Homo sapiens: one gene and its partner. The protein of the gene in region 2 interacts with the protein of the main gene of each other region in a biochemical or structural test. Each region holds a gene or a part of one and is shown on either strand. Other genes may lie near its edges.

Region 1 (4,001 bases), on a different chromosome or scaffold from region 2:
GTCCATTTCTAGCCTTCCAGTGGGATATTGATTCCTCTCCATGGAATTTATGAAAGAGCTTCGTCTTTTCCCCAATAGTCACAGCGATGGGGGCTGTCGCTGATCCAAAAAAGGCAAACAGGAGTTTATAAAGTTGTCCAAGGGTCTCTCCCATCTGGTAGATCGAGGAAGATTGACTACAGGAAAGTTCAAAGGTCAGTCTTGGCAGATCTAAAAACAGAGTGGCAGCGAGGACTTCAACACCGCACTTTCTGTACCCGAAGTAAACCGATATGTCCCGATTAATAGCAACAGGGCACAAAGGGAGTGGGCCTCTGAGGATGCTAGCCGAGAGCCAAGCCTGGGAGCTCCCTGAACTGGCTGCCCAAGCCTCAGGCGGGCCTTTCCAGACAGAGATGCTCCACGCCATACTACAGGGGATGACATCGGAATCCAATGTCACCTTTTTTTAAAACACAGAATAGCAGCACACTCGTGACAACTTTTGACAAGTTAAAGAAATCCAATGGTAAGATTCTCCACTGTTGCACCAGAAAAGTCAGAGTTGGTTTTTTGTTTTGTCTTTTTTTCCCCCCAGAAAATTAAAAAACACACCCGCAGAACTATAAATAATTTGGTGGCAATATATACACATTTAAATAATTAATTTAAATATCTTACACCTACTCTTGCATTAAACTCTTCATCCGAAGAAAGTGCACCAAGGTGACCCTCGGCACTGCCCTCCCAGGGGCTTCCCGAGGCTGAGGCAAGGGTCCTCTGGAGGGTCACAGCCTGGGGAGGAAGTGGGTGACCTTCATGGTGGGCGACACTCGGTTCCCCTTCTTGGTCTTCCCATTCTTGCTCAGGGCGATGAACATGCCGGGGTACTTGTAGGACTCGTAGGCGTTGTAGTTGTTGGGAAGGAGAATCTCCTTGAACGTGCACTCATCGGTGAAGAAGGGCTGCAGCAAAGCAGGGCAGTGTCAGGGCTGGGGCACCTCTTGGGCAAGGTACCCAGCCTGAAGCCAGGGGTCAGAACCCCCTTCTGTCCCACCCCCCACCCTGGGCTGAGATGTCTCTGCTGAGCAGTTAAGGTGTCAAGACCCACACAGGGTGAGAAGGGGACATGGCCAGCCCACAACAGCTGGTGCTCTCACCACCTGCCCTGCACCTAGCAGCCAGAGAATTCATTCCCTCCGTGTCCAGCCTCAAGCCCGCAGTTCCAACACTGAGACCTACCCCTCTGGACTAGAGAAGGGAAGGGCTCTCAATAGCGCCCTTTCCTCGGTCTGGGAGGGGCCCACTCAGGGATGGCAGGAACCTCATTGTTCCTGCCTTGGGGCTGCTTCCTTTGTCTGGGGAGGCCTGCCGGTCCCGTGACCTGGTGACCCTGCCACCCCTCCAAGACCCAGGCACAGGTGGGGCTGGAGAAGCCACGAGCCTGCTAGCCATGTCCGCTGTTCCCAACTAGGTGCCTAGCCAGACCCCTGCGGTACTCACCGAGCCATAGAGCTTGCCCTTGCTGCTCATGGCCACGAAGAACCGGCTGGCCACGCCGAAGATGCTCACCACGCCCCGCTCCACGGGCGAGAGCTCCAGCAGGCCTGGGGGCGGGGCGCAGGTCATTGCGGGGCAGGTGATCCCTGGCCCACTCCGCCCCTCGGCTTGTTCGCCTCCGGGGACCCTATTTCTGGGGTGGGGTTGGGGATAAAGGGCCAGGGTTCCCGGCGCAGCCGCCCCCAAGGGCCTCCAGAGCCCAAGCTGCCCTCTAGGGCCTCCGGAGCCCAAGCCTGCGCTAGCTCAGATTAGCTTGCCTGTGTAGGGGACCCCCGGCGGCCGCACCCAGTCCCGGACCTTCAGACGCGAGCCCGACCCCAGCGGTTCCCCAGCCTGGGCCAGGCCGGGGCGCGTGTCTCGGGCCCCCTGTGGCTGCACCGCGCGCCCTGTGCCCACGGGCGAAGGCGCTGGAATTCGGCGCTCGGAGCCCGAGTTTCTGAAGGCGGGAGGCGGCGCCCGACCTCAGGGGTTGCGCTGGGCTGCCGGAGCCAAGAGTGTCTGCGTCCCCAGCCCCGCGTCAGAAGGGACCGGAGCCCGAGTCCGCCCCGGTTCCCGGGGCCCCCGAGCAGGTGCCCGCCGAGGGTCTCAGAGTGTGACTGAGCGGGTTGGCCCGGCGGCCGTTGCCCCCCGCCCCCGCCCCTTCGCGCCTGGCCGCGCCACTCACTGTCGCGGGTGTCCGCGTGCGCGCCGCCGATGCGGCCGTCGGGGAGCGCCTGGAGGTGGAAGCCGATGCCCACGTTGCAGTAGAGCCGCCGCAGCCGCTTGATGCCCAGCAGGTAGTCGCCGGCGCCGCTCTGGACGGCCGCCTCCTTGGGCTGCGCTGCCACCGGCAGGCGCGCCAACGAGAGCGCCACCAGGCTCTCCCAGCGGCGCTCCAGCTCGGCCTCCAGCGTGCCGTTGGGTGCAGTGGGTGCGGCGGCGCCCCCTCGGCCCGCCCAGGGCGCCAGCAAGGCCAGCAGGACCGCCGGGAGCAGCGCTACCGCGGCCGTCCCGGGCCCCGACATCCCGGCCCGAGGGCCGTGCGTCGGTCAGGCGGTCAGTGCGCCCGGGAAGCTGGGGGGCAGAGCTGCGCCTGTGGCGTCCCGCGGGAGCGCACGGCCGACCTCGGGCAGGAGTGCGCAACCGAGGAGGTGCGGGAGGCAAGCGACGGGGCCCCCGGGCGCCGGGCTCTACCCCGGCTGCATGGAGCGGCGAGCCGGGCGGAAAGCGCGCGGCTGGAGCTGGGACTCTGAGGAGCAGTGCGCGCCTCCCTGAGCGCCAGGCCCGCCCGAGGCCGAGCCGCTATATATATAGCCCGGCGCCCCCTCCTACTCGCCCGCTCCCGCGGGGGGCCGTTCGCGTTCTCCTGGGCGCCCGGGGCGCTGTGGCGTTCGCGGCTGGTCGCAGGCCGCCTGCCAATCAGGGCCGGGGGAAGGGAGGAGGCTGGGGACTAGCGCCGCGAGTGCCACCTGGAGGGACCCCGGCCCCCACCCTTGGCTCCGCCCGGCCCACGGACCTGTTCGTCCCGCCCCTTGGCGGCTCCTACACTTCTGCTTTTCAGCCAGTTTTGCCTCTTGCACTTTGTCCCTGCCTGTCCCCGTCCCCGTCTCCCTCTCTGCTCCGGCCGCCTTGGCGCAGCCCTAACTCGGGCATCCGAAGCTCCTAGTGGGCGCAGAAGCCAGCGGCTGCTGCCTGCCCTTCGCCTTTCGGAGGCTCACGGGAACTTGGTTCCTTTGCTGGGGCCTTGAGGACCGGCCTGGGAAGGAGGGGTGGATAAGAGCAGTAAGCGACACCGGGGCCTGGCTGGGCAAGGGAGGACCCTTTGGCTACAGGCGGGAGGGAGGCCACCCCCACCCCCTAGGTCTTGGCCCCACAGGCTTGGCGCGTTTCTGGGCTGGAGTTCTGAATACCTGGTGGAGGTCCACCTGAGCCAAAGGGCAAGGTGGCAGAGATGCACCCAGGGAGGCCTGGTCCTGCACCCCCTACACACACACCCTTCCGTGAAAGGACAGGTAGCAGGGCATAGGGCCAGAGGGGATATTCAGCATCCCCTGCTCCTTTGATTCCACAGCAGAAATATCCATGTACCATAGCCAGAGCCCTCAATCTAGCAGGGACCCAGGCCAGGCCTCTGGAAGCCTCCCCTCTCTCACTCATGGTTCTACCTCCCACTGTGCCCATTATGGCCTGATGGGGACTGTCCTAGCTAGATGCAGGCCCACCTAGGTGTGAAAACCCCTGTTCTTTGTGGTCCCTGAGGAGCCTGCCTGGCCCTTCCTGCAGGCCCGCCTAGCCACAGCTGCAGGGGGCTTGGTGCCTACCCCATCTCTCATACCACCAGCACCTGTGACCAGAGATGTCCCCAGGCCACCGCAGCCTCCTCCACCTCCACCGCATCCCCACAGGGAGATTCCTGGGACCCCTTCAGAACCCTGCTGGGGCTTATTCGTGCCCCTGGAGGGGACCTGGGAGGCTTGAGGGCT
Region 2 (3,500 bases):
CAAACTACACTAAGAAGGCAAGTCAGGGAGGAAGATGGTGTGGTAAAGATGGGGTATGATTAGCAACACCAAGCATTTCAATGCTAGGAAAGCTAAAAAAAGTAGAGCCATCTCTAAATCTCATGGGATACAGCAAAAATCTCTAAATCATATGGGATACAGCAAAAAGATGGAAAAAAATGCAAAACTTAAGGCTAGGACAGGTGTGGTGGCTCACACTTGTAATCCCAGCACTTTGGGAGGCCAAGGCTGCCAGGAGTTGGAGACCAGCCTGAGCAACATGGCGAAACCCCATATCTACGAAATATTTTTAAAAATTATCCAGGCCTGTAGTCCCAGCTACTCAGGAGGTTGGAGGACCCCTTCAGCCCAGGAGTCCGAGGGTACAGTGAGCCACGTTTGACAATGCAGTGAGGGTACAATTGCACCATTGTACTCCAGCCTGGGTGGCAGATCAAGACTCTGTCTCAAAAAACAAAAACAAACAAAAAACCAAAGGCTAAAATCATCTCTCAAGGAAAAAAAAATAGAGACCATAAGCATTTTGCACAGTTGCATAAAACCTACTGGATCAGAATTATCTGTGGAATAGCCTAAAAAACTTCCAAAAAATAATTTCTGAACTGCCTACAGAGATGTCCCCCTGGCGAGAATCGGACCAGTACAGTGGAGAGTAGCACACCAGCTATATTTCCTACCTAGCTTAACAGCCAGGCACCCAAAAATCAATTTCCCATGTTTTCCTTTAATGACTAAAATTCGCTTCCATGGAAATGTAAGGGTAAGCTAGATTAGAGGGAGTTTTTAACAATTACCCTGGCTAAACAAACACCTAAACAACAGTCTGCAAACTGGAAGACTAGTGGATACATTTTATTGAAACTACGAACATTAAACAAAACACTTCCAGTTTAAACACGACCCCAGTTATTTCATAGCCATGTAATTATTTGTTAAGTCTGATATTAAAAACATCTCATATTGGATTGCTGTGGTTTTGTGAATTCTCACCCTCAACTGGGTCAGAAAGACTTGAAAGGAATAAAGTCTTTACTTATGGCTTGATGCGGGGCCATTGGCATAGTAAGTGCTCTGTCTTTTAACTGGTTGAAATAAACAGACAAAACAGAAACACACACATATACCCCAAATTTGAATCAGAGAGAGCCAGTATAAAATGATACAAGTACCAGTTCTCTGGGCTTGCCAGATTTCTGCTCTATAAGTAATATTAAACATGGCTCTTGGTCTATGAATTGTGAAACACTTTATATACTAATAAAGAATGTGTACTTCATTGTGTATTTAACTGCGTAAGCCTGTATTTGGTTTAATTGACCAAGAATAAGTCCTTGTTCCAAAGCTAACTATCAAGTTACAGTCAACTCTTAAATATTAACACTCATATTGAAAAACAAAGATGCAGATAATACGAAACAGAAGATTATTTTAAATCATTCACTCTTGGTATGCGGATATATTCTTTCTTCCTTTCTTTTAACTTGCAATTAAATGCGTATGGTTAATATTATGGCATTTACAATACTTCTAACAAAGGACTTAAACCATACTGGAAAAATCTGACTTAGGGAGGTCTCTGTGTAGATCCTGTCCTCGACGTTTCTGCTACTGAACTCTGGACCAACTCACGTTGGTCCAGGAGAGCATCACCTCTCAGAAGATTGACAAAAAATTGCTACACAAACTACATTTTTTTTCAGGTTGTTACTTTTCAGAGTCACACTCTGTGGAGGGTGGGAAAGTAATTAAGGGTGTAGGGTTGAAAAGCCCTTTCATTTTAGCTCCTACTGGGTTGGTGTAAACAAAGATGCCATTAATGTCAACAATGACTTAATTAACCAGAGTAGGTGACAATGTCAGGAAGAACTTGAAAGTAAGAGTTGCCCCCTCTCAGGGTAATCAAGCTTGACTAGACTTCAAATATTTATAATGTTAATCAACAGAATAGTACTTGGCATTGAGGACTGCCCCCCTTCGAGTCAATAACCATGTTTTCACTCCTCTGCTGGTGCCCTATAACAATGAATGACCAAAAGGAAATTAACAATGAATGACCAACTGGAAAACTCATATTTAATCTGAAATATTAAAAACTAAAATCTTCTAGAGATTATTTTCTTAAGTCAATTGAGTGGGCCCAACCCCACTGCTACTATTTCAGAACGTGTCCAGAAGACAAATGATATATATGATATATGATATGACATATGATATGATACGATATTGCACAAAGCCAAGATGACTAAACATAACCTTTCCCTGAGGGGCCAAAAGAAAAGGACCCTCTAGTGTTAGGGCCCAGGCTTCTTCCTGGAACTTCTCAGTCACATTTTTCTCCTATCCAATAGACATTATCTAAACTGAGCTTCCAAATAAATTAGCAAACCAAAAAGTCTTACAAGATAAGACCTTGGTGCACAGAAGGTCAAGGTGGAACTTACTGCTAACCAAAGCTATAGTAGTTCTAATCATGGAGAACTGATGGACAGGGGCACAGGCACGCACGCACGCACGCGCACTCGCGCACACACACACACACACGCACACTCTCTCTCTCTCTCTCTCTCTTCCAATTCACCAGCACAGAGCCTAAACCTGAGCCCATTTTCAGCTGTTAAAAACTCCTTTCTCATCTATAATTCAATGACCTTCCTAATCACCTCTGACACCAAAGCGAACTCCTGCAACAGAAGAACTGGTCTTAGGGCTCAAATCAGTGGCCAGTATTAGACTAACAGATGAGGGGAAGTGGGGACCCTACAGAAAGCAAACACAGCTTCCTGGAAACACCAAGGGCCTCCTCCATCCAAAAACAACTTTCTTCTCAACTGTCTCCAAAAGCCTAGATGTTTTTTGACATTGTGGCACCTGGCACAGCCAGCCCACGGGACTGGGAAGACCCATGTTCCCAGCTCCCTGGCGACAACGGCGACAAGGCCATGCACCCGGTGCTTACTGGATGCCAGCCCCTGTGCTAATTGCTCTTTATGTCCAGGTCAAATGGAAATCTCCTAACAACCTTTTGGTGGAAGAGTCAGAAGACTTCTGAGGACATTAATATTCAATGACTATTAATGAAGAGACCCTAAAGATCATCTTCTTAAGCCCTCAGACGACAGAAAGGGAAACTGAGGCCTGGGACTTGTATACTTTTCCAAAGCCTCTTCTTTGCCAGGTTTTGCACCTTCCTCTAAGACATCTTTTCTTTTCCATCTCATAATTCTGGATGCAAATGAACTCATAGCTCATGGAAACTATAAACCCATAAAAATGCACAAAAGGACATTAACAAAATATTACCTAAAATTTCCAGAACTTCATCGACCTCCTTCCTGATCCATAAGTGCATCCACAGATCCCAGGTTGAGCAGGCCTGCTTCCAACAATACCCACATTGTTGGATGTAAATTCTTACACAAAGACTCACTCGGGGAACTTCGTCCCTTTCCACGATTTCTTCCCTCTGCCTCACCTGTCCC

Evidence for each region. The genes of interacting proteins can lie anywhere in the genome.
Region 1: the proteins of FGFR2 (region 2) and FGF4 interact in a biophysical measurement, tested with the Homo sapiens proteins (one study listed by IntAct).

The regions. Positions count from the first base shown.
Region 1 is NC_000011.10:69,772,542-69,776,542, forward strand, and holds the start of FGF4 (fibroblast growth factor 4 precursor), read right to left. Parts: upstream 2,801-4,001; 5' UTR 2,544-2,800; coding exon 2,204-2,543; intron 1,587-2,203; coding exon 1,483-1,586; intron 945-1,482; coding exon 768-944; 3' UTR 1-767. UniProt on the Homo sapiens protein: Plays an important role in the regulation of embryonic development, cell proliferation, and cell differentiation. Required for normal limb and cardiac valve development during embryogenesis.
Region 2 is NC_000010.11:121,588,445-121,591,944, forward strand, and holds part of FGFR2 (fibroblast growth factor receptor 2 isoform 1 precursor), read right to left. Parts: intron 1-3,500. UniProt on the Homo sapiens protein: Tyrosine-protein kinase that acts as a cell-surface receptor for fibroblast growth factors and plays an essential role in the regulation of cell proliferation, differentiation, migration and apoptosis, and in the regulation of embryonic development.